Homo sapiens: one gene and its partners. The protein of the gene in region 5 purifies or fractionates together with the protein of the main gene of each other region. This does not show direct contact. Each region holds a gene or a part of one and is shown on either strand. Other genes may lie near its edges. The genes, in order: EDEM3, IGSF3, TMTC3, CELSR3, CEACAM8, RPRD2 and UGGT2.

Evidence for each region.
Region 1: the proteins of CEACAM8 (region 5) and EDEM3 purify together in Homo sapiens (affinity purification with mass spectrometry; one large-scale study listed by BioGRID and IntAct). This does not show direct contact.
Region 2: the proteins of CEACAM8 (region 5) and IGSF3 purify together in Homo sapiens (affinity purification with mass spectrometry; one large-scale study listed by BioGRID and IntAct). This does not show direct contact.
Region 3: the proteins of CEACAM8 (region 5) and TMTC3 purify together in Homo sapiens (affinity purification with mass spectrometry; one large-scale study listed by BioGRID and IntAct). This does not show direct contact.
Region 4: the proteins of CEACAM8 (region 5) and CELSR3 purify together in Homo sapiens (affinity purification with mass spectrometry; one large-scale study listed by BioGRID and IntAct). This does not show direct contact.
Region 6: the proteins of CEACAM8 (region 5) and RPRD2 purify together in Homo sapiens (co-immunoprecipitation; one large-scale study listed by IntAct). This does not show direct contact.
Region 7: the proteins of CEACAM8 (region 5) and UGGT2 purify together in Homo sapiens (affinity purification with mass spectrometry; one large-scale study listed by BioGRID and IntAct). This does not show direct contact.

The regions. Positions count from the first base shown.
Region 1 is NC_000001.11:184,705,563-184,710,212, reverse strand, and holds part of EDEM3 (ER degradation-enhancing alpha-mannosidase-like protein 3 isoform 2 precursor), read left to right. Parts: intron 1-1,868; coding exon 1,869-2,060; intron 2,061-3,385; exon of another isoform or gene 3,386-3,404; coding exon 3,405-3,570; intron 3,571-4,650. UniProt on the Homo sapiens protein: Involved in endoplasmic reticulum-associated degradation (ERAD). Accelerates the glycoprotein ERAD by proteasomes, by catalyzing mannose trimming from Man8GlcNAc2 to Man7GlcNAc2 in the N-glycans.
Region 2 is NC_000001.11:116,587,290-116,591,939, forward strand, and holds part of IGSF3 (immunoglobulin superfamily member 3 isoform 2 precursor), read right to left. Parts: intron 1,816-4,650; coding exon 1,405-1,815; intron 1-1,404.
Region 3 is NC_000012.12:88,193,827-88,198,016, forward strand, and holds part of TMTC3 (protein O-mannosyl-transferase TMTC3), read left to right. Parts: intron 1-1,011; coding exon 1,012-1,823; 3' UTR 1,824-4,190. UniProt on the Homo sapiens protein: Transfers mannosyl residues to the hydroxyl group of serine or threonine residues.
Region 4 is NC_000003.12:48,648,929-48,653,578, forward strand, and holds part of CELSR3 (cadherin EGF LAG seven-pass G-type receptor 3 precursor), read right to left. Parts: intron 4,260-4,650; coding exon 4,074-4,259; intron 3,626-4,073; coding exon 3,509-3,625; intron 3,121-3,508; coding exon 2,949-3,120; intron 2,791-2,948; coding exon 2,649-2,790; intron 2,552-2,648; coding exon 2,431-2,551; intron 2,148-2,430; coding exon 1,964-2,147; intron 1,654-1,963; coding exon 1,552-1,653; intron 288-1,551; coding exon 193-287; intron 1-192. UniProt on the Homo sapiens protein: Receptor that may have an important role in cell/cell signaling during nervous system formation.
Region 5 is NC_000019.10:42,582,055-42,585,795, forward strand, and holds part of CEACAM8 (cell adhesion molecule CEACAM8 precursor), read right to left. Parts: intron 1,655-3,741; coding exon of another isoform or gene 1,625-1,654; exon of another isoform or gene 1,468-1,624; intron 1,284-1,467; coding exon 1,192-1,283; 3' UTR 1,152-1,191; intron 1-1,151. UniProt on the Homo sapiens protein: Cell surface glycoprotein that plays a role in cell adhesion in a calcium-independent manner. Mediates heterophilic cell adhesion with other carcinoembryonic antigen-related cell adhesion molecules, such as CEACAM6.
Region 6 is NC_000001.11:150,471,668-150,475,277, forward strand, and holds part of RPRD2 (regulation of nuclear pre-mRNA domain-containing protein 2), read left to right. Parts: coding exon 1-1,667; 3' UTR 1,668-3,610.
Region 7 is NC_000013.11:96,049,749-96,055,046, reverse strand, and holds the start of UGGT2 (UDP-glucose:glycoprotein glucosyltransferase 2 precursor), read left to right. Parts: upstream 1-1,645; 5' UTR 1,646-1,734; coding exon 1,735-1,892; intron 1,893-5,298. UniProt on the Homo sapiens protein: Recognizes glycoproteins with minor folding defects. Reglucosylates single N-glycans near the misfolded part of the protein, thus providing quality control for protein folding in the endoplasmic reticulum.

The DNA of each region.
Region 1 (4,650 bases), on a different chromosome or scaffold from region 5:
GTATAAATCAATTAAATAAATCAGAGCTAGGTTGGGTAATTTGCTGAAGTTAATATAATCAAATGCAGGACTCAAATCTAAGTTTTCTGTTTCTCAGTCCATTGGCTTTCCCCTGTTACTTTTATTTACAACATAACTTCAAAAACTAGTAATTAGTTTTAATATTCATATCTCCATGTTTTACATCATTTTAGTCTCCAAAGAGCTACTGAATCTTAAGTATTTTGTTCATCATAGGTATTTATTTGTCTGTGCCTAGGAAAAATAACATGTCTTTTTGAGAAATTTTTATTGATTTTTACTTTGAAAGTTTTTATAACACAAAGTTTTTAAATTATTTACCTTATTAGTATATTGATTCTGAGAAAACCACATAGTTTGCTGAATAATTTTTAACCTAGAACCATATTCAGGTATCCTTTAATCTCAAATTCAACCCTCCCACAACTTCATCACACCCTCAAGTTTTCATCTCATCCATATTCTTGCCACATCCTTCCTTCTTTTAAGAGTATTCTTCCTTCTTCCTTGTATTTTATTTGGCCTCAGTGGGAGTGACATCTCTTGTGACATTGCTTTTACTTACTTAGGCTGCCAATGGCATAATTACTGCCAAGTGGCCTCTTGATCCTTATATGATTTAACTTTTCTGTAACTATTGGCTGAACCCTTCATAAAACATTTTCCCTTTTTGGCTTCCCAGGATATTTCAGAAACAAAGTTCTTTTTCTACTTCACTGTTTATTGCTTTGTAGCTCTCCTTGGCACAACCACTCAATGTAAACAGTTTCCAAGAATCTGGATGATATTCTTTTCTCTATATACTCTTCTTCAACAGTGTCACCTATTTCTACAAGCTTAGCTATCATTTTTATACATATGACTTCTTAGCTATGTATGTGAATCCTGATTCCTAAATTTACTATTAAATTCAACTTTCATCTACCTCTCATACATCTTGCATCTCAATCTCAATCTGTCCAAACTTGAATTATCTCTTTCTTGTTTACTCTCTTTCTACCCTCACCTCAACCTATGTTTCCTTCTTTGGCTCTCCATGTCAGTAAAACCTATCATCATTCTTTAAGTCATCAAAGCTGGAAATTTCAGGATAGGTTTGAACTCTTCTTCTCTTCCAGTTCCTCTTATCCTTTTCCATCCTCTAACTTCTATCATGTCTTGTTGGTTTTTCCTGTAAAGTATCAGGAATCATCTTATTTTTTTCTATTATAGTCATTCTTCAACTTTCCCTCTGTTAAGACTCAATTCAAGTGTCATTCTAAATCTTTCCCAGGTACACACAAGCAGAATCAATTGTTCCCTCATCTGTGCTCCTTTTCCACTTTCCCACTTGAGAAATTTTATCATAGCTAACTTTACATGTCTTTCTCCTCCAGACACAAATTTCTTAAAGGACTGTCTCTCCAATGCCTAGGCAAGTGCTGAGATGGAATAAGTGCTTCACAGATATGTTTTGAATCAAATTGAATCTGGTTGTTCACTATTTCAAGGAGGGAAAGTGTGGGTCAGGTATGAGGTTTATTTCTTCAGAGGGAAAGCCAGTGGGGAGAATAAGCAAAGTGAGCATTTGAGCATTCGCTAGAAGTCCAGTTCTCAATCTGAATCAAAAGTGGTTTATAGAATAGCGAAAGTGACATTGATAAAAAATACGGATAAGTTATTTTCAGAAATACTATTTCTGAAAGTATTATTTTTGAGTACAAATAAGGTCATAAATACTTGGTGGTGACCTAAAGTGAAAGAAGAAGTTGTAGAGTAGAATACTACAGTACAGTGTCTTTAGGAAATCAAAAAATTGGTGGAAGTTTCCAGAAAGGAAGGATAAAATGAATTTGTTTTTTTCATAGGCTGCTAGTTCAATCGACGCTGAAGATGGGTTGAGGTTCATGCAGGAGATGATTGAATTGTCAAGTCAGCAACAAAAAGAACAGCAGCTGCCTCCACGAGCTGTACAAATTGTTTCCCACCCATTTTTTGGCAGGGTAGTATTGACTGCTGGACCAGCTCAGTTTGGGCTGGATCTGTCTAAACATAAAGAGGTATGTATACTTAAAATATAGTTGTTGAAACTGAATTTAAAATATTAAGTATTGCCTTATTTCTTAGTCTCTTCTCTAATTTAGTAGTTTTAATTTATTTAAAAAACTGAAATAGTCAATCTCCTGGATTTAAGTAAAGTAAAAGCATGTCTTGAAAACTTTGAGTCATAATTTATGTATATAATATGCTTACAGAATTTTAACTAAAATATTATTCAGGTTCTATTCAATTTCTTGGTCTCTTCTCTAATTTAATACCTGTAATTGATCTAAAAATGGTTTTCAGACTTTCTAAGAGCCACTAGAACCTTTCTTTGAACAAAAGTCTAAACCAGGAGCTTAATGTAGAAAACAGCTAAAAGCACAGAAGCTCTGGCTCAAGTGACTGGAGAAAGCCTGGGACCCTGAGGTTCCACTGGGCAAACTTTGAAGATCATTTAGCTAGTCCATCCTCTATAGTTGTAACATAGTTATAACGTAGAAAACAAAGACTTACATAACTAAGCAATTCACAAAGTTATCTAACTAATTGATTGCAGAGCTGGGACCAGAGCCCAAGTATCGTGACAATCTAAAGCCAATGCTCTTTTCACTCTATTACTGCTAATTTAGACTTTTTTCTCATGTATATTTTAAACTATGTAGAAGCTATATAGATTGATTGATTCATTCAACTGTTGATTGAGTGCCTACTATATTCTGTGCACTGCTTGCTGTATCAGTTTACAAAACCAATGAAGATCCATGCCCTTATGGAATTTACATTTTAGTAGAGTGAAGGATATTAAAACATCTTTATAGTAACGTGTTTAAAAAAATTAGTTCCTTGGTGGATTTAATTTTTTTGGTAAAAAGAACTGCTTGCAGATTCATATAGACTAAGTCCATTTTTTCCCCTTTCAAAAACTTTTCTTGTTACCAATGATCATTTCAAATTAGTTCCCAGCTATTGTAAATGTAGTGAATCTGCCTGCAGGTCCCAACTTTACTGCTTAGTAACATCGTGTTAACATTGTGAGCAAATTACGTAACCTGAGTCTCAATTTCCCCATATGTGAAAGGGAAATGTTATTTGTATTGTTTTGCTCAGGGTCATTATAAATAACAGATTTTGTAGTTTATATAAAAATGTTCTATAAACTGCAAAGCACACTAGAAATATTGGTTGAGTACTGTGATATGCAAAATGTTTAAAACAATATTTTATGGTGACTATATGTTAGATACGTTATCATTAGAAAAGAAATGAGTTCTAGTTCTTTTAAAACTCTAGATATTGAGGTTTAATGACTTGATTGCCATTTGAGAAGATTAAAGTATTTAAGTTGCTTTTATTTCTGACAGACAAGAGGATTTGTTGCAAGCAGTAAACCATCCAATGGTTGTTCAGAGCTTACTAACCCAGAGGCAGTGATGGGAAAAATCGCACTGATACAAAGAGGACAGTGCATGTTTGCAGAAAAGGCACGCAACATCCAGAATGCTGGAGCCATTGGTGGCATTGTTATTGGTAAGTAATCATCCATGTCATTGTGTTGACTGAAGGGGAGATAATTTTTAGGATTTTTTCCCTTTTATTTTCTAAAATTTTATCAAAGAGTTTGTCATAGTTTTTTTTACCTCACCTAGACAACAAGGATAGGTAATCCAATGACTTTTAATTTCTAGATATCTAACATCTTTTTTAAAAGTCTAGATTTGAATTTCTGTATATTAATGTCAGTGAAAATACTTGGGTTTAGGTGTGAGGGTGAGGTAGGGCTGAGTAGTAAAAAAATTCAGTACCATGGATAAGAAAAGGTGCCCATGAGATCCATAACCCCCGAAGGGCAAGAATTACACTGTGCCACGTCCAGTGGGGAGCCATTGAAAATTTCCATTACTCCACAAAGATGCAGGCTTTGGAGGCAGACACATGAGAGTACAGTTCCTGGCTCTACCACAAAATTGCAGTGTAACCTTGGCCTAGCTTCAGTTTTTTAATCTGTAGATTAAATAGTATAATTTTTTTTTATTTGATAGTAGAATATTTTTGAGCTCCAGTGGAAGTGATAATAAATATATTTTAGGTGATTGTAAGGTTTAAAGATATATAAAATTTCTTGGCATAATAGCAGACATAGGATAAGTGCTACTATAACAGGGTTTACAGTATTGCTAGCAGATCTTTATCCCCTTGGATCTTTTTCTACCGAAATGACAAGTTACCACCTTTAAATCATCTTACCTATATGTATCAACTAGTGGGTTTTGCTTTTTTATCTTTCATAGACAATCACTTATATCATGATAAACAGGCCATGACTATTAGGGGAAATATAAATTTTTCTGTTTTAAAGTAAATAGGAGTTTACATTCAGAAAGAACTGTAAGACCTGGGCTCACAATATGCTGATTGTGAGTTCTTTTGTACAGCTTCTCTCACAGGGAAATCCATTTTGGATTCCCCCCTCCCCTGCCGCCCAATAGTTAAGGTAAATAAAAAAAAATAGTTCAGGTAAAACAGAATATTAACACTTATTATGTTGATTTAATGGATGCATAAATTTTATTAATAAACATTAGGAGAAGTCCTGTTTAATGACTTAAA
Region 2 (4,650 bases), on a different chromosome or scaffold from region 5:
TCATAATTACTTATATATGAATAAGTAAATTAACAGAATGTCAGGTGGTGATATGTGTTGTGAAAGGGCCGGGGAAAGGAAATCTAGAGTGATGAGGGGGCTACATTTAAGTTAAAATGAGCTAGGAATCCCCCTTCACGGAAGAGCAAGACAAATGAATATCTATGGCCAACATGTTCCAGGCTGACAGAACAATAAGTACAAAGGCCTTAGGGTGATCAAGGAAAGCAACCATTTATTCCTTATTCAACCAATATTTACTAAAAGTACCATGCCAGTGGCTGAAGATATAAGACACAGCCCTGTCCTCAACATGCTTACAGAGTAGTACAGAAGAAATGCAAACCATTATTAGGCTATGTGTTTTAGAAGGGACCCCTACTGGTATGGGAGAAATCAGGGTAGGCTTCTTGGAGGTGGTGCTGAATGAAGTCTTAGGGATGGAGTGAAGACAAGGGAGAAGCAGCAGGAAAAACACATTTCAGACAATGAGGGCAGCACAAGCGAAGGCACGGAGATGAGGCTCTGGGTGGCAACACAGCACCCCCCATGGCCCATCAAGAAGGACAGGCAGTGACAACAACGAATTGCAGGGATGTGAGAATGAGGGGTGGAGAGGCCCTTCAGGCTACACTATGTGAGAAGTTGAAAGGACTAGAGATCTTTAACAGAGAAGGGGCATACATTTCATGTATTTGAAAGGAAATGACGCAGACTTCTCTTTGGTTGTTCCAGGGGCAGATCTAAAAAGGGAAATTACAGGAAAGTGAACTTTTTAACAATCAGAGCTGCCCAAAAATGGAACTGAGGCTTGCGGACTGAATAGCTCTCCCTCCCTGGAAGCATTCTGGCAGAGGTTGAGTGCCACCTGTGAGGGAGAGGAATAAGGGCTACACCATGGGATCAAGGAAGGGCCAGAGGAGGAATGATTCAGTTTGGAGATAGGAAAGGCTTGTCTGGGCGGGCTGGGAGCTAAGGAAGAAGGGGGATGCAGATGCATAAAACCAGAAAATGCCTTCTAGGTAGGAACTCTGGGTGTGGAGCTGGTGTCAGCCCAAGATTCAGGGTGCAAACTGCAAACCCAGAAGAAGATTCAGGAGCTGCCATGAACCCTGCCTTGCCACATTTTGCTAACCACAGCTGCCCTGCTCCTTGGTGAAGATGGTATCCACAGAAGCAGAGTCAAGGATGCTTCCATGAGTCTGCCGTCAGCATCAGGACCCACTGCAGGTAAAATGGATGGGATTGCAGTGTGCTAGGGTGATGGTCCGTGTACCTGCACCCATACTCAGCATGCACCTTGCAGACAGTCTCTCCACACCAGCCCCACAGATCCCCACCCACCCCCAGGCAGTCTCTGCACTAAACCCACTGGCCCAGGACAGCCGTGCCCTGCGGCCTTACCTGGCTGTTTCACAGTGACTTCTGTGCGCCCAGAAACCTCCTCTGCCAGCTTGTACCAGGCGTAGTTGGGGCTCAGCAGCCACTCCTCCACGTGGCAGTAGTAGCTGCCGCTGTCGCTGACCTCGGCTCTCTGGACGGTGAGGCTGAACAGGCCCCCCGACACATGCCTCTCAAACTGGAGCCTGGCTCTCAGGCCCTCCTCCTCGGCGTAAGTACCGTATTCAAAGGCGGAGTTGTGGGTGGTCTTCAGGATAAGCTTGCCATCGGCATCCGAGGGCTTGTGGACATACCAGAGCACCGCAAAGTGGGAGTTCTGGCTAGTCTGAGACTTGACTGAGCAGTTCAACTGAATGGGCTTGTTTTCCACCAGGGTGAGGGTCCTCTTCGATTTGCTCACCTGCAGCTTTGTCACTGCAAAGGAAAGGGGAACACAGGAATCACCACAGACTCCCAGAAACGTGGCCCATCCACCTCCAGGCTCTGAGCCAGGTTTCCTCCAGCACAGTTCCTGGGGGATTTAACACCGACTGGCTTCAGTGTGAGGAAGGCAGCACGGAGCCCAGGCCACCGCTAAACATCCTTCCCTGTCTCCTCCTTGCCATGCGCCTGGCTTAGGCCTTCACCATCTCTCCCCTATCCACTGCCTGCACAGCCCACCATCACAGGGCCTCCAAGGGTGATCCTGCTGAAATACAAATCTAGCTATATCAGGTCTCTGCTTGAAAAGTTTAATGGCTCTGAACTACCTACGGGCCAGAGAGAAACAATTCCTTTTCACAGCACAAAGTCCCTTCAGGATCTGGCCTTCACCCAAGTGTCCTGACTCATCTCTCACGACTCACCCTCAGGCACCCTCCACAGGCGCATGCCCCTGGTGCAGTTTCCCTGAGCCCTGGCCTTTGCCCTTGCTGTCCTCTCTGCCTGTCTCCTTCTGCCACCTCCCACCCTGACCCTTCTCTCCACTTATCCCTCATTCCCGTCCCCCTGGGCTCCATACCCTTCCTCAGCACCCTCTATATATCTCTGGGCTGTGTGTCCTCACATCTCTCTCCCATATCCTAGATGGTGAGCTCCCCCAGGGCAGGGATCAAACTCCTTCCACTCAATCAGCCAGTATTTACGGAGTGCCCACTCGGTTTCCCACAGGATGCTAAGTGCTGGGGATGCCCTGAAGAGTAAGCCGGAGTCCCAGCCCTCATGGGGTGGACTGCCTAGCGGACATTCTTATCGCTGCACCCCCAGAGCCTAGCACAGCACCTGGGCCAGGAAAGCATTTGATCAGTGTTTGCTGAAATAGGTGAACGAGTGGGTGAGCGAATGAGAGCACGTTGGAGAAACACGGCAACAGGTAATTAGAGGATGCTGCGGGCGGGGGGAGAGGGGGCTTCCTCTGGGGGAGTGAGAGAGAAGGCTGAGAAGACAGTAAACCACGGGACAAGGCAAAGCCAACTACAATCCTCCCTTCTCCTCACTGTCCTGCTCCAAAAACAGACAAGAGGGCAGCCTGTGGAGCGCCTCCCCAGCAGCTAATTAATGACGATGTTCACCTTGCCAGTGGCAAGAAGCCAAGGTCTAATGAAATCCATCTTAGGAAGGTGATTTGAGATCTCACCCACCCCATCATCATTAACCTCGGCTCTGCATTCCCCTACCCAAGCCTTTCCCGCTACTAAAAATGAAAAAAAAAAAACAAAAAAACAATTCTAAGTTCCTCTTAGGGAACTAATAGTACAAGAATTGTTCCACCTCCACCACTCTCTTCACACTTAGTTTTTCCGCCACAGGGACCAAACCACTTCCCAGCTGAGAAAGAAAGCAGGGGCAAGGTGCAGATTCCACCCAGGGACAGCAACCTAGGCCTCCTCCAACCGAGCTTGTGTGGAGGGCAGGGGCAGGGGCAGGGCAGGGATGCCTGGCCAGGCTCCAGCACTCTACTGGTCAGACTCTTGTCTCTTTAGTCCAGCTCAACCCCAGGAACTGCATCCAGACCCAGGACCCAGCCCACTGGTCATGACCCTGGCCTGCCAGCTGGCTTAAGCTTGGTTTGGCAGCATCAAGGGTTGATTGAGTCCCATGCATCACAGAACCAAAACTTGTGAAAGCCACAGACTGCCACTTGGTCTCCCTGTAACACACAGACAAATGTTCTGAATGGATGGAAGGATTTAGCAAGCCAAGGTGTGGCAAAGTCCAATTCCCAATGCCATGACTGAGCAACACTGCGGAGCATCTCCCGCAGTAAATCGGACATTCTCTCCAGGAAGACTTGTTGAATTCACAAACCCACAGACCTTCTCACGCCATCAAGAACACACCAGGCACCACTTAGAGAGAAATCCTGTGTGCCACGGCCCCACCCTCCCGGGTTCATCTTTTTTGTTAGCAAGTCCAATCTTCTGCCTTCTCCCTTCTTCAAATGCAGAAAGTCCTCTAGGGCACACTAGGAATCCAGGACAGGGTTTACCATTAAGCTCCCAAGCTCTGGAAACTAGATTTGCATTCGCTTGCCAGTCGACTTTTCAGATTGGATTCCTATAATACTTGAAACAACCGGCTCCCTTTTCATTCCTTTCCAACCCAATTCACCGCATGCAAATGATATCTATATCAGTGCAAATGACACCACCTGAATTATCTGGTTCTTGGCCAAAAAAACTGGGTTGTTCAGCATGGAGTAGAAAGAGCTTTAAAATGTATTATTAATTGGGGCCGGATTATTTTTGCAACTGTTACTAAGGAAACCTCAATTGCTATAGTAACTGCATATGTTAAACTGGAATCCTATGACTAAACTTCTATTCAGTCACATGGTCTGAGAACATGAATTCAAGGAAGAGAAATGTTTCAAAGCATTTCCATTTTTTTTCCTTCCCATGTCAAAATATTGTGAAGTGTTGAGAAGCTTGAAAGAGAGGCATTTTTTAAATTTGGTGCACGTCTGACAGGTGGGCAAGGGGTCAGCTCCTATTCTATGCTCTGGATTTCCTCCCACATCTCCAGGGCAGGTAGGACCTTTCCTGAGGCACAGGGGAGACTGGAATCTCCACATATAATTAGGGAGCCCTCCCATGTCCTGCCAGAGCCCTGCCCTGGGCGGTGTACAGCTTGCGTGCACCACCTTCCTCCACAGAGCTAGGAGAGCCCTGCCCACTTAGAGACCACAGGTGTTTTCATCTGCAAAATAAGAACAATGTCTCTATCTCCATTAGGAGTTTTGTGCAGACTAAAAGCAATGGTCTATAAAAA
Region 3 (4,190 bases), on a different chromosome or scaffold from region 5:
CTCATTATTCGACACAAGATTGTACTATAAGGTTTGTAATTGTAGAACTTGAACTTTTTTGTTTTTTTGGCTTTTTTTTTGCAATAGAAATTATCTCAATGGAGATTTGTTTCCTGCCAGGCAGTGGCTGATGCCTGTAATCCTAACACTTAGGGAGGCCAGGGTGGGGAGGATCACTAGAGGCCAAGAGTTTGAGAATAGCCTAGGCAACATAGTAAAACTCTGTCTCCACAAAAAATTTTAAAATCAGCAAGAAATGATGGCACATGCCTGTAGTCCCAGCTACTCGGGAAGCCAAGGTGGGAGGATTGCTTGAGCCCAGGAGTTTGAGGTTACAGTGACCTGTGGACACAGCACTGCCCTCCAGCCTGAGTGACATAGTGAGACCCTGTCTCAAAAAAAAGAAGATACATGTTTCCTAAATCCTAATTTTATAGCCCTATATTTAATGGTATGTTTTTGTCCTCGAAACATTCCTAAAACTTTGAAGTAACATTTTTTAAAATGTGATACAGTCATTCTGAAGCTTTTTTCTACCCAGTAATAGTTACTATTTGCTGAACATTTTTTCGATATACAACATACAATTATTAGAAAACTCAGTTAACCCAGAGAAGTTAAGTAACATGTTCAGTGTATAAAGTCATAATGTTATCAGAATCAAGATTGAATACATGTCTTTGTTGGCAAATCCCATGCTTCTTTTTCTGAATTCTCTATTTTCCTTCTATTTCCAATTGAATTCTAAATTATAAGAGACATTTCTCTCCTTTTGGTTTCTGAAGCACTGTTACTGCTTTAAAGGAAAAGAAATAAGCTATCTTTTTACTGTTTCAAATATTTTGCTTTTCCTATGAAGACTTCGAGATTTTTGCTTTCTACTTTTTTTAACTATGGAAATTAGTTGTTTTGAAGCTGTCTTTTTGTAATCTAAGTATTTGAAAATGGCTTTGTTCCTCACATTTAATTATTTTATTAACAATATATTTTTTCTTTAAAAAAACTTTCTAGGTGAGGTTAAACTCAGACCTGAAGCTAGAAAACGACTTCTAAGTTATATAAATGAAGAGCCACTAGATGCTAATGGGTATTTCAATTTGGGAATGCTTGCCATGGATGACAAAAAGGACAATGAAGCAGAGATTTGGATGAAGAAAGCCATAAAGTTACAAGCCGACTTCCGAAGTGCTTTGTTTAATCTGGCTCTCCTGTATTCCCAGACTGCAAAGGAATTAAAGGCTTTGCCAATTTTGGAGGAGTTACTCAGATACTACCCTGATCATATCAAGGGCCTCATTTTAAAAGGAGACATTCTGATGAATCAAAAGAAAGATATACTAGGAGCAAAAAAATGTTTTGAAAGGATTTTGGAGATGGATCCAAGCAATGTGCAAGGAAAACACAATCTTTGTGTTGTTTATTTTGAAGAAAAAGACTTATTAAAAGCTGAAAGATGCCTTCTTGAAACACTGGCATTAGCACCACATGAAGAATATATTCAGCGCCATTTGAATATAGTCAGGGATAAGATTTCCTCATCTAGTTTTATAGAGCCAATATTCCCAACCAGTAAGATTTCAAGTGTGGAAGGAAAGAAAATTCCAACTGAAAGTGTAAAAGAAATTAGAGGTGAATCCAGACAAACACAAATAGTAAAAACAAGTGATAATAAAAGTCAGTCTAAATCCAACAAACAATTAGGAAAAAATGGAGACGAAGAGACACCCCACAAAACAACAAAAGACATCAAAGAAATTGAGAAGAAAAGAGTTGCTGCTTTAAAAAGACTAGAAGAGATTGAACGTATTTTAAATGGTGAATAACATTAATATTTATCGTGACAATGGTATCAAAGAACATCAATCCGTATCATGTGATTGCTTTTACTGGGAGCTTTGAAAAAAAGTTCAAGGGTTCCTAATGGTCAATCATGAGCTGCCTTGAAGTAGGATCAAAATAAGATTTTCATTAAAGACCTGTATTATCCCAGGATGTATATTATGTATCGCTGTTTTCAGAGTGTGGGTGAATATAGCAGAAATATTACAGCGGAAGTGACAAATTTACAACTTTTATTATAGAAAGAAGGTGTTTCTGGCAATGTAATCTTTACTGCTCTCAATTAAAAATAATTTTGAGGCCTGAATGATAATCCCTTGAGGACAAATCCAACATGTGCTGGTTTATTCTGTTAATTCCCATTTATTTGCCTACTTCATTTTTCTTGCACCTCTTAGAATCTAACTATGAATTGAAAACACTTAAGTAATTCTGTTTAATCAAGGGATTTACACTACAAAAGAATGCTGGCTTTTTTTATGTTGTATTCCTTAGTTGAGTTTTAGAAGGAATGCTTGATGAAACATTTTAAAATAAGTCATGACATGTTAGCTTGAGAATGTATTTTCATAATTGTATACTTGTTTTTAACTTTAAATGTAATTTTTAATCAGGTAAAGTTTGACACATGTATAGCTACATACACACATTTTTAATGGTGCTCATATATACTGTATTTTTTGTTGTTTAGTTTTACTTATTGAGAGTGTCACAACATGAATCACATAATCATGATTTTTTTTTTTTACTTTTACTCCCCAAATTATTCATGTTTCTTAGATCGTAGTCATTGAGAAGTCCCAATAACTCTAAACTTTTGAGTTATAACGTAGTAAACTTCTCTTTCATCTTTGTGTTAGCTCTGTAGTCTTAACCTGGATTTTAATTTTTTTGTTTCCAAAGTCACAATTGAATTATTCTTAGATACCTTAAGCCACTGAATTCAGTTCTGTTTGACTGAAAGCAAAACAACGTGACAGTTTATTTTCAAACACTAACTTCTTGATATTTTGTTATGGTATATCTTTTTATTAAATATTTATTTTGACTAAGCTTTCATAAAATATTTGAAGCTATTTTAATCATCAAGTATGGAAAACAAATTACTATTGCATTTTCCTATATATGCATATATTATGGATTAACCAGAATTGTATCATTTTTGGCCTAATGTCTGGATATAAAAGATAATTAGCCTACTATAGTATTAATAAATTTTTCAGTTGGTTTGGGCAAATTTAAACCTGAAAAATAGGTTAAAAAGTAGTTACAAATTAAACTTACTAATTTATACCTGATTTTTTTTCTTGAATTAAAGTACATTTTAAATGAGCTTTATAATACCTTAAAAAGTTGGTTCTAATTTAAAATATGAAAGCTCTGGCTATCATCCTGGGATAGTAATTTCTAATTATATAGTATTTCAAAACTATATATTTTTTAGTTCCTTTGAGATAACTAATTTCTAATTATATATGTTTCAAAAACCATATCCTGTATTTTTTTTAAGAATTGTTTTATAAATAGGTCATAAGATACAAGGTCTGCATTAGAAGACCCACTCTTACTAGGTTCCCTAAGGATCTGCCATAGATTTTTTTTTTTTTTTTTTTTTTTTTAGGTAGTTTAAAGCAAGCACTGATACCAGTGGGAGTTGGTCTTGATCTAGGAGATTCTGTTAAGCATCCAAAAACAATGCCTAATTTCAGTTCTTAGGTTATGGCTTGTGACTCCAGATAAAAGATGGAGAATACCTCATGTACTGTGACTTGAAAATGAATTCTTAAAATTCTTAGGCTCTCTCCATGTATCTTTCTTAAGGAAAAGTTTCTGAGTGTGATCTCTCTTTTGCCATAGTATCAAGTGGAGGGTAGTTCAGAAAAGTTAATAGGAAATCTTTTGTGACAGCAGACTATAATAGAAGTTTGAGTAATATTTTAATAAATTTATATAATTCAAATGATAAAAATGTATCAATGTTATCCAATGATTTTTATTAAAAAATTACCTTATTATTAGAACTGTGCCTATTACATAAAAAGTGCTCATGTATTTGAATTTTAAATAATTTATTTAAATCAAGACCACCATAAGTCATTAATAATTTAATAATTGTTTTAAATCAGTGGTTTTCAACCCTCACTTCATATTAGAATCATCTGAGGACTTTTAATATGGAATCCACCTCATAACAATTAAGTCTAAATTTCTGGAAGATGGAGCCATGCTTGTTTTTCCAAAAGCTCTTTGAGTGATTCTAATTTGTAGTCAGAGTTGAAGACCACTGCTCTAAATTAGTGCAGGAAAATGCTTTTATTTCTCCCATGTTAACTTTTAAAACTAGTAATGTA
Region 4 (4,650 bases), on a different chromosome or scaffold from region 5:
CTGCCAAGACAAGGAGATGGTTGCTCTGTGGTCCCTTAGGCCTTCCTCTAAAGCTTCACAGGGAGAAAGCCTTGCCAGATTAAAGGGCAACCAGGAAAGGCTCAGGAGTTCAAGGGCTAGGGTGTGGTATCTGGGGCCCACCACAGGCCAAGGAAGGTCTTAGGTTGCAGGAAAAGGTCTGGGCAGTCTCACCAGCAGACTGAGCTCTCGAAAGGCAGGGGAGGTACAGTTGAAGAGGTCGGGCTCCAGCCAACCCTGGGCCTCATCACACAGCCGCACAGCAGCACCTGGAGGCAGGCAACCCCTGGTCAGGCCTGGGGCCTGGATACCTTTGCTGAGGAGATAACCGCAGCACCCTCTCCTATGCTGGGGGAATCCCTGAGGCAGAAGTCAGAGTCATGAGCATCTATAGCTGCACCCCTGGAGGTAGCGGCCCAAGCCCAGGTAGGCCCCAGCTGCTTGTCAGGCAATTCCTGAGAGGGCTGTAGACCATTCTCAACCAGCAACCACACAAAGCACAAGGGTGGGGCTGCACACACTCACCCACGTGGGCCAGGACTGGCTCATAGATGTGCTGGTTCACACAGACACACACCAATGCTCACCAATTACACACAGATGTATGGACCAGACCAGTACGCAGACACACAATGCTCTCTCGCACACACACAGACATGCCAACACAGAAGAGGGCTTCTAGGAACATCCAGTGAAAGTCAGGTGGGAGGATTCTCACACAAGTTTTAACTGCCCCAGTGGTTACTTTGCTGTCATTTCTCTCCCTTGTCTCTGGGGTTGGGATGGAGGTTGAATGAGAATTGACTTGGATCTTAAAAAAGTTTGTAGCTACCAACAAGAGAGAGCCTAACTTAATCACAGAATCCCCTCCCCGCAACAGGTTCACAGACACGTGCACAGGCACAGAGATACACACGTGAGCATGCGTACACAAACAATCTCTGTCCAGCCACTGCAGAGACCTCAAGCAGCAGGGAGTGTTCTGAGGGGACCTCAGGCAGTGGGGAGGGGCCCCCAAGCAGCAGGAAGGAGCTATAGGGTCCTCAGACTGAGGAGGGATCTTTCGTGACCTCAGGCAGTGGGGAAAGTTCTATGGGGACCCCAGGAACTGAGAAGGGGTCAGCAGGGTCCTCAGGCAATGGGGAGGGGTCTCTGAGGATCTCAGGCATCAGAGAAGGGCCCCTGGGGTACTCAGATAGCCAGAAGGGGCCTGCAGGGACTTTAGGCAGCAGGGAGGGGTCTGCAGGGACCTCAGGCAGCAGGAGGGGTCTGCAAAAGCTCTGGTAGTGGGAGGGGGCAGTGCACCTGAGCAAACACGTACCCCTTACCTGCACCCCGCAATCCTGCCCAGAAGCCAAGAGAAACAGATGGAGGCTCAATGAGGGTGTAGGGAGGGGCCCACATGGACTCCCACCCCACTTCCACCTCTTTGCAGGAACAAAGCCACCCAATTTAGGAAAAGACATGGCTCTAGCAGTCAGAGTACAGGCCCACCCCCACCCTCAGTGATGTCCTTTCCCCCCACATACTCACCCAGGGCCCCCCGGGGACAGGGCACTGTGGCCAGGACGCCAAACTTTGTCTGGGGCCACCACACACCAGATCTCAGGGACTTAGGGCAGGCATCATAGAGCACTAGAGAGAGAAGAGGTGCTGAGCCAGGCAGTCAGGGTACAGGGCAGTTGACAGCCACACCCACTGCCCCTCCACCACCCCCCACAAGGCCCACTGCCCGCCACTCCTGCTGGCTTCTCAGGAGCTGACCTGTCAGATTCTGTGACAGGTCAGCAAAGTACTTGGGGCAAAGGTAGGGTTCCCTGGGTGTAAGTGGTCTCCCTCAGGAGAAGCTTCCAGAGTCCCCAAGGAGCCATGTGTGCCACTGACACGTGATGGTGGCACACTGGAACCAGCCCTCTATGGGTGGAGCTGGGTGGAGCCTGCTCACCCCGGCAGCCGCTGGCTGTCACCTCTGCGAAGGGACTGTCACAGCTGTTGCACTGGCGGCCAAGGGCTCCTGGGCGACAGGGGCACTGCCCGCTGTGGGGTGCACATGAGCGCGAGGTGGAGCCCACAGGGTAGCAGTCACATGGGAGGCAAGAGTCACTGCCCCGCGGTCGGTAGTGGAACTCCTGTTTGAGGATGGGCCAGGGGCCTGAAGTCAGAGGTCAGGGCTTGGGGAATGAGTGGAATCAAGGATAAAGGGTCAAGAGAACAGTGCTCATGGGCCAGAGGACACCTGGGTCATGCGTGAAGCCAAGGGAGGGGTCACGGGTAAAGGATGAGAGACAGCAACTTGGTCACAGGACACAGGCAAGAGGTTAGGGCCCAAGTCAGGTGGCGGAGGTCAGCAAGCTGGACAGGAATTGCAGATTGCGTCCAAGGAAGGGTTAAAAGGTCAGGGGCCAGGCGCACCTTGCAGTGACACTGCCCATTTGTCTTGTTGCAGTTGGGATCAAAACCTTTGTGAACATCACAGTTGCAGGGGCCACAGGTTGGGCTCCCCCACCAGCCCCGTGGGCACTGCTGGTCCATCCTGGGGGTGCAGAGCCAGGTAAGATGCCTCCACGGTATCCCAGTGACCCTCCCTGTCCCTGCCAGGTCTCCCCATCGCCTCAGCCCCAGCCTCTTACCTGTGCTCACAGTGGTGCCCGAAATAGCCACCCACACAGTCACAGGTATAGCCATGGGGGGCTCCTGGCAGGTGCCGGCATGATCCCTGGTTCTGACAGGGGTTCAGGAGGCAGGCATCCACACAGCCTGGGCCGTAGTAACCTGCAGATTGGGTCAGAAAGCTCAGGATCCTGGTCGCAGAGCATGGAAGGAAGCAGGCACCCGTCCCGAGTCCCTGCCTCCTTCAGGTTCCCCAGTCTTCATCATGGGCCCCTAACGCCTGCCCAGGTCACCCTTCCCCCAACCCTCTCAAGGCTCACCTGGCTGGCAGGTGCAAGAAAAGGTCTGCCAGAGGTCCCGGCAGTCTGCGTGAGGTGGGCAGGGCCCAGAGGCACAGGCGTTGGTCACAACACAGCCAGGCTCCGCATTCACTCGGTGGCTGGGGGGTAGCAGGGCCGGGGAGCCAGAGGGTGTGGAGCCGAGCCACACCCCCTGTGGACACACAGCCAGCAAGGGGTGAGACCATGTTAAGGCACCTCAGCCTCAAGTACTGCAGAGCCAGCCACCCGGTCTGATGATCCTTGACATGCAGTCTTCTGATACCCTCAAAAAACCCAGGCCTCAAAAATATCCCCAATTTGGTACCCCTGTGGGACCCTAATTGTGCTGTTTCTGACACAGATTCCTAAAGGCCCTTGATAATCCAAGCTAGACTCCCACCTCCAATGCCACAGAAAGGCTTGACCTAGCTCTCAACTCTGGGTCATTCACCCCCTCGCACCAACCCCCACTTGAATACTGCCTTTCAGGTCCCAAGGAGCCCCTGACTTCTGACCCCTGACCCTAATGCCCCATATCACATTCCCATGCTGACCCCCACCTGGATGCAGCCAACCAGACCCTGAGGAGCCTCCTCTGCACTGCCGGGGGGCAGGCCTCCCACGTGGAGCTGCTTTACCTTCAGGCCCTGCAGCTCACTCCCCACCGCCATGGTGTCCTGGAGGAAGTGGGGCAGTCAGCACTGAGGGAGAGGGGCCTGATGAACCCCTGTCATAGCCCAGAGTCAGTCTTGGCCTTCTTCTAGCCCTTCTAGGCTGCCCCCTCCCTCCTGGACCCACAGTAGACCTTAATATTGCTTGATTTTGACCGGGGGTGGGTAGAGACTGGGGCAGAGACTAGAAGGGGCTTCTAGGAATCAGGCAAAGTGCTGGCTACAGAGGTTCCCCAAGACCAGGCCCCAAATCTGGCACAAAGAGGGCTTGAGAGTGGACCAACTTGGCTGGTGGGTGGGCTCAGTGCAAGGATATATGGTGGGGAACTAGGGGTAGAACATCAGACTCAGTGCAGTGGAGGGAACTGAGAGGAGCTGGACTAGAGGTGGGGTCAAATAAGGCGGATCTGGTTGGAAGGCTGAGAACAGACTACCCCGGGGTCAGAGGCCAGACCTGGAAGAGGCTAAAGTCCAGTGAGACCATAAGGACATGGTGGCCCCGCCGGCCACCTGGTTCCTCCTGCAACTCCAGCCGCAGATCGTGCCACCGGCCATCACTGACAGTCACCTGGTCCAGAAGGAGATGGGAAGCACGGCCCGAGCCCCTGGTCACTGTCACAGACAGTAACCCCCGATCTAGCTGTGGGCAGAGATGCATAGCCCTGGGGTTAGAGCCCCATGTGGGCTGGGACTTGGAGGTGAGATCAGAGGGCTCAGAGGTCAGGAATATCAGAGGTCAGAACAGTGGGGTCAAGGTTATACCTGGCACAAAGGGCACTGTGCCAGGGGACATCATGTTGCTGATATGGGGTCAGGGGGCAGAGGATAGGACCAGGTGTTGTGGGTGGGTTGGTGCAGCTTGCATAAGAGAGAGCTATGCTGGAGCCCTGCACCTGCAGAGGATATAATGATGGAAAGAGAATCAAGGGCTAGGGTCCAGAGCAGGGTCAAGTGTGGTTGGGACACCTGGCAGAAAAGTATGCTGTGTGACCAACCTGAACCCACAAGAATGTCAGTGGCGGCCTAAGAGA
Region 5 (3,741 bases):
GAAAAAGTTTTCTAGGAAATTCTAATACTCCCAGCTAAAGAACCATTGTTTTAGCCTCATGTGCTACCTATTAGAACAGGAGTTCTCCATCCTGGTTACATGTTAGTAGCATCTGGGAAGGCTTAAAAATTACCAATGCCTGGGTCCCACTCCAGATAGTAGGTAAGAATTTATGGATGGGGCTTGAGCATCATTTAAAAAAACATTTCTCAGTGATTCCAATGTGTGGCTATATTTCCCATCAGATTTCTCTGATTTCTTGTGGCATTCACTTTTTTCTATTTTGGTATTATGATTATTTTTCATATCTTATCTCCTGTCTTAGGCTGTATGTTCTCTGGGGTAGGGATCTTGCCTTTTTCATTTCTGTATCTTTCATGAACACATGAATTGGTCATCAGGAAAAGGTTCTCAACCACACGTAGGCTGTGTCCTGAATCTCAGGTTCACACATTAATGCTAGAGTCGTTGTTCTCCATGAGGTCAGAGGTTGCTTGCTTTGAAGGGTATGTGGGCAACTCCACAGTTCAGATAGTGGATGGGAGATTACCCTGTTTCTAGGCATAGCATTGGAACTAAGAATTCTATGTGTATATGGGGTAGATGCGCAGGGAAGTGTAGGAAGACAGTTCTAATTAGGATGGAGGAATTATACTAGGGAGTAGAGGGAATGGAAGTGAGAAGAATTAGTAAAGAGAAGAAATGTGAACTTATCAAATAGGCCAGAGTAGGCCTCTGAAGATTCTTGAGTAAGTGAGTGAACTAGATTTTAGGAAGGTAATGAGACAATCATATGCAAGGAAGATTTCAAATACTAGAGACAAGAAGTCAAGCAGGACTTCGAGCAGTTGTTGAGGTCTATGGGAATGGATAAAATGACACAAGTGAGAGATGTTAAGAAAGGATCAAAAGACTTTCATAGTGTATTGAATCTGGGAAACAAATGAGCAGAGGCTGGGAATAATCACATCTAAGAGACAGTGGGGTACAGGGAGCATGCAGACCAGGGAAGAAGAGACCTGCAGGAATTAGTGCTGAGAAGCAGGAGTTTATTGGGAGGAGGAGGAGATCCATTCCCGGGATACAGGTCTCTCTCCCAAGCATGGCGGTCAGCCCTGCAGGAAACAGGACAAGAGGAAAGGCCATCATACCTGCCAGTCTTCTTGAAATGCAGAAACTACACCAGAGCTACTATATCAGAGCCACCCTGGCCAGTACTCCAATCATGATGCTGACAGTGGCTCTAGCTGAGAGGCCAGGAGAACTTCCTTGTACTAAAGCATCTGTCATGGAAAGAAAAGAAGAGAAGGAATGAAGTTGATGCCATTTTACAGTGGGGTACCCCAGGAACCAGCTCCTAGCATGAAGTAGTCTCTACTTGTTTTTTCAAGGAATACATTATTTTTGTGGGAAGGTTGCTGGGACGTGATTAGCCAACTATATTCTTGCAGGATTTTTTCCTCTCACCATGTTTCTAGGTTGACGATCAGTCTTCGGTCAATTTCATCCTGGCATTTCTTTACTCAGATATTTTGAAGGCTTTGTGATGTGAAAAAGCTGATTGCTATTTTATGTGTCATTAGAACTTTCCACCTTTTCATGGTTGCATCTTTTTCTCAGTGTCTTAGTTGTGGCAGGTCTCTATGGCAGGGAGCTGATTGACAGAAGGCCCAGGTCAGTGCATTCCAAATTGACCACCTCCTTTGCACAGAGACCTCTCTTCCCAGGGGCTCCCAGCAGGGGTATGGAAGCAAGCCCAGTTTTGTGAGACTCTGTTTAACTCTGATGGGTGACTAGTTGGAGGACGCCCCATCAGCCTTGCCTAAACTCACTTAGAACTGCACTGCTATCTAAAACTTCTTTTTCTTTCTCCTTCACAGGAATCAAATCTGCATCGTGGTCTGAGGGCTCTCCCAGGCTCCTCTCACACCTGCCCCATTTTCCCTCACAGGTGTTTTTCCTAGTAAATTATCTTGCGTGTCTAATCTCATCTTGGTTGCATCTCAGTGGGTTAAAAACTAACATACCAGGTTTGATTCTTTGCACTTAGCTTTTTTTCTCTCTTTCACGTGTAACCAGTAACCATGTCCTCGTGTTTCCTGTGTTGCCTTTTTTTTATATGTGTGTGTATTTACCTAAGATACCTTTTACACACACACACACACACACACACAACCTTTTGCATCTGTTTCTTTATTTCTATTGGAACCATTTACTTTTGGCCCTCACCAGTCAACTCAGGCTGATGATTAATGCTATGTTAGCTACTGTTGAGGGGCAGCTCCTATGGGCCAGGCCCTGTGCTAAATACTTTACCTCATTTGATTTATACAATAACTCTCTTGGGTAGAACATTATTTCCATTTTACAGATGAAACGACAGAGGCTTAGAGTGGTGAAAAAACTTTCCTGATGTCATATGGCTGGTGAGAAGTAGACTTGAGATTTGATTCTAGGACTACTCAGCTTCAAGCTAATGATAACAGTAGTAATATATCAGCTAAAATTTATGAAACATTTCCTCTGTGTGGGGCATTTTGCTGAAGGTTTCATTGATGATTACATAAAACTCTTAAAACAATGCTATGAAGCAAACACTGTTACTGCAATTTTCAGTTGAGGAATCAGAGGCTCAGAGAAGTTAAGAATCTTGTGCAAGAAATTTATAACTGTTAAGTCTTACATTAAAAAAGAAGAAACATCTCAAATCAACAACCTAATTTGCAACTTCATGGTACAGGAGAAAAACAAACTAAACCCAAATATATTGAATGAAGGAAGTAATAAGGATTAGAGTGGATATAAATGAAATGGAGAATGGACAAACAATAGAGGAAATCAATGAAACCAAAAGTTGGTTCTTCAAAATAAGATCAACAAAATTGCCAACCATTAACTAGACTGACTAAGAAAAAAAGAGACAAGATGGAAATTACTAAAATCAGAAATGAAAATGGACTCCCAGCATGGTGGCTTACACCTTCAATCCCAGCACTTTGGGAAGGCAAATTGGGAGGATTGCTTGAGGCCTGGAGTTTGAAACCAGCTGGGGCAACATAGGGAGACCCTGTCTCTACAAAATTAAAACAAAAATTCAGCTGGGCATGATGGTATGCACCTGTAGTTTCAGCTACCTGGGAAGCTGAGTTGGGAGGATTGCTTGAGCCCAGGAGGTTGAGGCTGCAGTGAGTTTTGATCGCACCTCTGCACTCCAGCCTGGGCTGACCTAAGGAGTGAGACTCGTCTTTCTCTCTCTCTCAAAAAAAAAAAAAAAACAAACAAAAAAAAAACGAAAGAAAGAAAAGAAAATGGAGATATTATATATCAATTCTAGAGAAATATTGTTTACAAAAGTACTATGAATAATTGTATGCCAATAAATTGGATAGCCTAGATGAAATGGACAAATTCCAAGAAACACACACAAAAAATCTGAATAGACCTATAATTAGTAGGAAGATTGAATAAAAATTTCATTTGACAAAATTCAACATTCTTTCTTAATAAAAACATGCTAAGTATGAATGGAAGGAAACTATCTCAATATAATAAAGGCAGTATGTGAAAAGCCCAAGGCTAACATCATACTCAATAGAGAAAGACTGAAAGCTTTCCCCCTATGATCAGGAACAAGACAAGGATGCCTGCTTTTGCCACGTCTATTTAACATAGTATTACAAGTCCTAGCCAGAGAAATTAGGCAAGAAAAAAAGAAGACTTTCAGATTGGAAAGAAGAAGTA
Region 6 (3,610 bases), on a different chromosome or scaffold from region 5:
CATCTTCCCCTGGGCTATTTGGTGCCTTCAGCGTAAGAGGGAATGAACCTGGGTCTGACCGGTCACCATCACCGAGTAAGAATGATTCATTTTTCACCCCTGACTCCAACCACAATAGCTTGTCTCAATCTACCACTGGGCATCTCAGTTTGCCACAGAAGCAGTACCCAGACTCTCCTCACCCAGTCCCACATCGTTCCCTTTTCTCTCCGCAGAACACCCTTGCCGCTCCCACGGGTCACCCACCCACGTCAGGCGTGGAGAAAGTCCTGGCCTCCACCATTTCCACCACGTCGACGATTGAATTTAAGAATATGCTTAAAAACGCCTCACGTAAGCCCTCAGATGATAAGCATTTTGGCCAGGCTCCCAGCAAGGGCACTCCAAGTGATGGTGTCAGTCTCTCAAACCTCACCCAACCCAGCTTGACCGCCACTGATCAGCAGCAACAAGAAGAGCACTACCGCATAGAAACCCGCGTCTCCTCCTCCTGCTTAGACTTGCCTGATAGCACAGAAGAAAAGGGGGCCCCTATAGAAACCTTGGGTTATCACAGTGCATCCAATAGGAGGATGTCAGGGGAGCCGATCCAGACCGTAGAGTCCATCCGAGTTCCTGGGAAGGGAAATAGAGGACATGGGCGTGAGGCTTCAAGGGTGGGTTGGTTTGATCTGAGCACATCAGGTAGCTCTTTTGACAATGGCCCTTCAAGTGCCTCTGAGTTGGCATCCCTTGGGGGTGGGGGCAGCGGAGGCCTCACTGGCTTTAAAACAGCACCATACAAGGAACGGGCACCTCAATTTCAGGAGAGTGTCGGCAGCTTTCGTTCCAACAGTTTCAACTCAACATTTGAGCATCATCTTCCCCCATCCCCCTTGGAACATGGGACACCCTTCCAGAGAGAGCCAGTGGGGCCATCATCTGCCCCACCTGTCCCTCCTAAGGATCATGGTGGTATCTTCTCTCGAGATGCACCCACTCATCTACCCTCTGTGGATCTTTCGAACCCCTTCACAAAGGAGGCAGCCCTGGCCCATGCTGCCCCACCCCCTCCTCCTGGAGAGCACAGTGGAATTCCTTTCCCTACCCCACCTCCTCCTCCCCCTCCTGGGGAACATAGCAGCAGTGGTGGGAGTGGTGTCCCCTTTTCTACTCCACCCCCTCCTCCACCCCCTGTTGACCACTCTGGAGTTGTACCCTTCCCAGCCCCACCACTGGCAGAGCACGGAGTGGCAGGGGCTGTGGCAGTATTTCCCAAGGACCATAGTTCCCTCCTTCAAGGGACCCTGGCTGAGCATTTTGGGGTACTCCCAGGACCCAGGGACCACGGGGGCCCCACCCAACGGGACCTCAACGGCCCTGGCCTTAGCCGTGTACGAGAGAGCCTCACCCTACCCTCCCATTCTCTGGAACACCTGGGCCCACCCCATGGAGGAGGAGGTGGGGGAGGCAGCAACAGCAGCAGTGGCCCCCCCTTGGGTCCCTCACACAGAGACACCATCAGCCGGAGTGGTATAATCTTACGGAGTCCCCGGCCAGACTTTCGGCCTAGGGAACCTTTTCTCAGCAGAGACCCATTTCACAGTTTAAAGAGACCCAGGCCACCTTTTGCTAGGGGCCCTCCGTTCTTTGCACCAAAACGCCCATTCTTCCCTCCCAGGTACTGATGGAAACCAAGGGAAAGGCATTTTGAACAGTCTAGAGAACATTGGAAGTAGGAGTTTGGTTTATTGTTGTTGTTTTTATTTGTTTTCTCTTTCTCGATTTTTTTTTTATTATAACAAAGGGCCTCTCTTCCAAAGTAAGAAATCACATACGCTTACGTTTTACTATTCAATTCAATCCTCCCTCCCATTGCACTTATCTACCTTCCCCAAGTTGTTTGTATTAAAAAAAAAAAAAAAAAAAAAAAGTAAAGAAACACAACCAAAGCCATTTCATTTGGCTGGGGGGTTGGGGAGTGGGGAGGAAAACAATCTTTATTTTACCCCATCTATTGAAGAGTATTATTACATTTGAAATAAAACTTCCATCAGTACAGATAACCACATGTGCAATGTTGGGATGTTATTTTGGGCTTGGCTTATCGAGTAGTCAATGGAAGGATTCCCGTCCCCTCTCTCGGCAGCTTAGTAACTGCTGTAGCCAGCTCGGCTCCCTTCCCTGTGTATCTGTGTCCTGCTAACAGCCAAGAGATGTTGCAAGGGAGGAAATGTGAGAGACCTTGAACCTGTCAGGTTTATTTGTTTTGTTTTTAAAGGCATGTTGAAGTTTAGTTCTTTACCCTTCTCCTAAAATCTTTTTTTAATCAGCCTCAAGGTTAAAATAAGGAGTGACTACAGTATGTAAAATAAGGAAAGGAAGCATTAATGGTGTGATGTGACCTGCCTGTTTTTTTGTAAACAAGAGAATAGGAAATGTTTTCAAGGTAGTTTCACATGTCTTGCACCAAGCTCATGCCTCTTGCTTTTCCTTTTTGACTTTATCTCCCTCAGTTTTTCTTCTGCTGTGGCCAGAAAGACAGTCACTACAGTTGACTATTGATACAAAGGTGCAACAGAAATATTATCCCTGCATTTTTAAATATAAGAAGTAGACATTAATTTTACCATGGTGCCTCCCTAATGTAAGTGATATTTATTGGTGGTTTTCAACAAAGGTTAACTATTAAAGAAAGAAATATTTGTCTTTATCTTCCTTTTCCCCTTGCCTCAGTCGTGTTATTCACCCCTATTCTTGATATTTTAAAGGAGGAGATTCAGTAGCATTTTCCTTTATATTATACACATGTGTCTATCCCATTTCAAGGCTCAAGTCTTACCCCCACCTCTCGCTCCCAATAGGAAATAAAGACCATTTCTGCCCTTAGTTGTTTTACATGCAAGATAAGTGCTTTCCTTCTCCCTGGACTGAAAGACTTGTTTGTATTTCTACATCTAGTACTTGGGAAATAGACAATCACTGTACTTTGAGTGTTTATATCTTTATATCTAGGGACACTGAAAAGTAAATGTTGCTTTACTACAATTTTTTTTTAATTTAGTGTCTTACCCCAAGGCATACTCAACTGATAATCTCCAGCTAGATGAGTAAAACAGTATGTGTTTAGTTTTCCAGAGAATTCTGGCAAGTTTCATATTTTCTTCCAAGTTAGTATAGAACTAACTATAGGAAGTATGGGGTTGCTTTTTCCTCCAGTAGAATATTAAAGATGGGGGAGGGTGGGCAATGTAGTGACAGAAAATGATTCTCTCAGAATGAACTTTTCAGAGAAAGAGCAGCATAAACCAGGTGCACATCATGATTTGGGAGTTTTTGCGTAATTTATTCTGTTATTTATTTGGGCTCGCCATGTGTTCTGGGGTTAGGATGCTGCAGGTCATTCATCTTCTTAATGCCTGTCTGGTCTTAAGCCAACTGTTCTTTCTTTCCTCGACCCTCTCTGCCCTGTAGCTCTCCCCACAAAAATGCATGATACCATGACCTTACGTGTGGGATGGGGTATGTAGTGTAGCAAAGAAAAGAAAGTATAGTTATATTGAGTCCTAAGACATTTGTTAGGGAAAAGCATAAGAGAAAATGGGGTGGGAGGTGGGGAAATGATATTTGA
Region 7 (5,298 bases), on a different chromosome or scaffold from region 5:
ATTATTCTGGAAATTCGTGGAACTGCTTAGCGGAATAGGGTTTTCTAAGGAAGGGTACTGACTAAGCAAATGAAACGAAAAAAGGGAATGACTATGTTTCCGCAACTTCAAGAGATCCAGCTTCCCTGCAGGGCAAAGGAGTAACAGGAGAGAAAAAAAGCAATGAATCCGTGCATCCGCTAAACTCTTTTACCATATATTTTACTCTGACAAAACAACTATCACGTATTGGCCTTTTGTTTGTTTGTTTTTTTGAGACACGGTCTCCCTCTTTCGCCCAGGTTGGAGGGCAGTGGCGCAATCACCGTTTTCTGCAGCCTCTACCTCCTCGGCTTAAGCTACCTTCCCGCCTCGACCTTCCAAAGTGCTGGGACTACAGGCGTGAGCCACCATGCTCAGGCTTATTGGCACTTTTCTGTGCACTTTTAAATGTAATCCTCTAAATCACTCTTCTCCACCTTTCCTGTGCATAGGAATCACCTGTGGTTCCCGTTAAATTGGAGATCTTGATTCATTAGGTCTGGGGCGGGGCCTGAGCTTCTGCATTTCCATTGAGCTCACAGCTGAAGCCTACCCTGGACCACACCTTCCAATGGAAAAGGCTCCAGTGTGATTTCTAGCCACTAGTATTATCTGCGAACTTGGGAGAAATAAAATGCAAGTTCTCGGCCCCCGCAAGGGCTCTACTGAATCCGAAACACTGTGGGGAGGCCCACCACTCTGCAGTGTTTTAACAAGCAAGTGGTTAAAGTTTGAGAGCCACCCGTAAGTCACGGGTTTCCTAACATGATTGGACACTGGAATCACCTGCGGATTTTTTTTTTTTTTTTTTTTTTGAGACGGAGTCTCGCTCTGTTGCCCAGGCTGGAGTGCAGTGGCGGGATCTCGGCTCACTGCAAGCTCCGCCTCCTGGGTTCACGCCATTCTCCTGCCTCAGCCTCCCAAGTAGCTGGGACTACAGGCGCCCGCCACTACGCCCGGCTAATTTTTTGTATTTTTAGTAGAGACGGGGTTTCACCGTTTTAGCCAGGATGGTCTCGATCTCCTGACCTCGTGATCCGCCCGCCTCGGCCTCCCAAAGTGCTGGGATTACAGGCGTGAGCCACCGCGCCCGGCCTGCGGATTTTAACTAATACTACTGATGCCGCATCTCACCCCCCCTCCCGAGATTCTCAGGTACGGGGCGTGGCCTTGGCGGCGGCCTTATAAAAGCTCTCCCAGGTGATTCCAACCTGTAGTAACACTTGAGAACTGCGTGAGGTGGGGACTTCAACTTTAACTGGACTTATTTTCCTCCTATGTAAAAGGTGGACAATATGCAAGTGGTCCTGACTTTGCTTCCAGATTTTGGCAACTCCAGAGCCCTAGTTCGGTCTGGAGAGCCAGCTTCCCGCCCCGTGTCCTAAGGCCTCTGTCCGAGAACCCAAAGTCCTGGGAATGGACCCGCGGGAGCGGACCCGCGGGAGCATCTGTGACGCCGCTCAGCAACCCGGCGCCGCCCCGGCGGCTCCGACGTGGCCCAGTGTCCGGCTGGCGTGGGCTCTCCAGGCCGCACCCACTAAACCGCGCCGGAGCGGGACACGCATGCGCCGGTCTGGACCCGGCACCCAGTAACGGACTCGAGCTCCTCCCACCGGAAGTGGGCAGCCGCGCAGCGGGAAGAGCCGGCCGAAGCGTGGCGGCCACAGACTGTGGGTACCGGGTCCGAGGGACTCGCGCTTTTCTCTCCGTGCCATGGCGCCAGCGAAAGCCACGAACGTGGTGCGGCTGCTACTAGGCTCCACAGCGCTGTGGCTTTCGCAGCTCGGCTCCGGGACGGTCGCCGCGTCCAAGTCGGTGACTGCCCACTTGGCCGCGAAGTGGCCCGAGACCCCGCTGCTGCTGGAGGCAAGGTGGGTGCGGGCCGGGCCCTCGTCCGGGCGGGTGTGGGCGCGCTGCCACCCTCAGCCGCGCTTTCTTCGTGCTCGCAGCGGGTGTCTGGCTCCCACCCGGGTTCTCCAGACGCCCCCGCTCTGGCCCTGAGCATCACCACCTCCTTCCTTCCCGACCCGGGGCGGCTTCTCGGTTCCCGTGCAGCACTCACTTGCAGTTCCTTTCCCCCTCAGTCTTACTTTACCTACGATTTTTAAAGCTTCCCTGCCCTGCTTTAATACGTTGGGATGTATTAGCATTTACGCGTGGCACTTAACGCAAGAGCTTCTACTGGGGTAGGCAGTTCTGTTCAGACAGTGCTTAAAGTACCTAGTTTCGTAATGATGACATCATACCATCAGCTCCTAGGCTTACTATGGGGAGGGCAGCTTCCTGCAAGGTAATATTTTTCCTGTATCTCTTCCAACGGAATTAGTTCATGACCTGTCATTTACTCTGCAGAACAAAACTTGTAGCTATTGCATTTTGCCCTTTAGTATTCTAGTTGAGTAAAATTAGAAAGTTCTTTCTCTTAGCAAAAATGAAGTTTTACACCAATGACTTAATGGCTGTTCACCACAGCAACAGTGTGTGTCCCTAAAAAGAGACTCCATGACTCCACATAAGTTCATGTATTTGATGCTAAAAGTTCTTTTTTTTTTTCATTTCTATAGTTTATTGGGGAACAGGTGGTGTTTGGTTACATGAGTAAGTTCTTTAGTGGTGATTTCTGAGATTTTGGTACACCCATCACCCCATCAGTATATACACTGCACCCAATTTGTAGTCTTTTATCCCTCACTCCCTTCTCAACCTTTCCCCCGAGTCCCCGAAGTCCATTGTGTCAATCTTATGCCTTTGCATCCTCATAGCTTAGTTCCCACATATCAGTGAGAACATACTATATTTGGTTTTCCATTTCTGACTTACTTCACTTAGAATAATAGTCTCTAATCTCATCCAGGTTGCTGTGAATGCCATTAATTGATTCCTTTTTATGGCTGAGTAGTGTTCCATCATATATATGCCACAGTTTATCCACTCGTTGATTGATGGGTATTTGGATTGGTTCCACATTTTTGCACTTGTGAATTGTGCTGCTATAAACATACTTGTGCAACTATCTTTTTCATGACTTCTTTTCCTCTGGGTAGATACCTAGTAGTGGGATTGCTGGATCAAATGGTAGATCTACTCTTAGTACTTTGAGGACTCCCCACACTGTTTTCCATAGTGGTTATACTAGTTTACATTCCCACCAGCAGTGTAGAAGTGTTCCCTGTTCGCTGCATCCACGCCAACATCTATTATTTATTTTTATTTTTTTATTATGGCCATTCTTGCAGGAGTAAGGTGGTATCGCATTGTGGTTTTGATTTGTGTTTCCCTGATCATTAGTATGTTGAGCATTTTTTCATGTTAGCCATTTATATATCTTTTGAGAATTGTCTATTCATGTCCTTAGCCCACTTTTTGATGGGACTGTTTTTTTTTTCCTGCTGATTTGAGTTCCTTGTAGATTCTGGATATTAATCCTTTTTCAGATGTATAGATTGTGAAGATTTTCTCCCGTTTTGTGGGTTGTCTGTTTACTCTGCTGACTATTCCTTTTGCCGTGCAAAAGCTGTTTAGTTTAATTAAGTCCCAGCTATTTTTTTTATTATTATACTTTAAGTTCTAGGGTACATGTGCACAACGTGCAGGTACATAGATATACATGTGCCATGTTGGTGTGCTGCACCCATTAACTCATCATTTACATTAGGTGTATCTCCTAATGCTATCCCCCGCTCCCCCAACCCCACAACAGGCCCTGGTGTGTGATGTTCCCCATTGTGTGTCCAAGTATTCTCATTGTTCAGTTCCCACCTATGAGTGAGAACATGAGGTGTTTGGTTTTCTATCCTTGTGATAGTTTGCTGAGAATGATGGTTTCCAGCTGCATGCATGTCCCTACAAAGGACATGAACTCATCCTTTTTTATGGCTGCATAGTATTCCGTGGTGTATATGTGCCACATTTTCTTAATCCAGTCTATCATTGACGGACATTTGGGTTGGTTCCAAGTCTTTGCTATTGTGAATAGTGCCGCAATAAACATGTGTGTGCATGTGTCTTTATAGCAGCATGATTTATAATCCTTTGGGTATATACCCAGTAATGGGATGGCTGGGTCAAATGGTATTTCTAGTCCTACATCCTTGAGGAATCGCCACAATGTCTTCCACAATGGTTGAACTAGTTTACAGTCCCACCAACAGTGTAAAAGTGTCCCTATTTCTCCACATCCTCTCCAGCACCTGTTGTTTCCTGACTTTTTAATGATCGCCCTTCTAACTGGTGTGAGATGGTATCTCATTGTGGTTTTGATTTGCATTTCTCTGATGGCCAGTGATGATGAGAATTTTTTCATGTGTCTGTTGGTTGCATAAATGTCTTCTTTTGAGAAGTGTCTGTTCATATCCTTCACCCACTTTTTGATGGGGTCGTTTAATTTTTTTCTTGTAAATTTGTTTAAGTTCTTTGTAGATTCTGGATATTAGCCCTTGGTCAGATGGGTAGATTGCAAAAATTTTCTCCCATTCTGTAGGTTGCCTGTTCACTCTGATGGTAGTTTCTTTTGCTGTGCAGATGCTCTTTACTTTAATTAGATCCCATTTGTCAGTTTTGGCTTTTGTTGCCATTGCTTTTGGTGTTTTAGACATGAAGTCCTTGCCCATGCCTATGTCCTGAATGGTATTGCCTAGGTTTTCTTCTAGAGTTTTTATGGTTTTAGATCTAACATTTAAGTCTTTAGTCCATCTTGAATTAATTTTTGTATAAGGTGTAAGGAAGGGATCCAGTTTCAGCTTTCTACATATGGCTAGCCAGTTTTTCCAGCACCATTTATTAAATAGGGAATCCTTTCCCCATTTCTTGTTTTTGTCAGATTTGTCAAAGATCAGATGGTTGTAGATGTGTGGTATTATTTCTGAGGGCTCTGCTCTGTTCCATTGGTCTATATCTCTATTTTGGCACCAGTACCATGGTGTTTTGGTTACTGTAGCCTTATAGTATAGTTTGAAGTCAGGTAGCGTGATGCCTCCAGCTTTGTTCTTTTTGCTTAGGATTGTCTTGGCAATGCGAGCTCTCTTTTGTATCCATATGAACTTTAAAGTAGTTTTTTCCAATTTTGTGAAGAAAGTCATTGGTAGCTTGATGGGGATGGCATTGAATCTATAAATTACCTTGGGCAGTATGGCCGTTTTCACGATACTGATTCTTCCTATCCATGAGCATGGAATATTCTTCCATTTGTTTGTGTCCTCTTTTATTTTTTTGAGCAGTGGTTTGTAGTTCTCTTTGAAGAGGTCCTTCACATCCCTTGTAAGTTGGATTCCTAGGTAT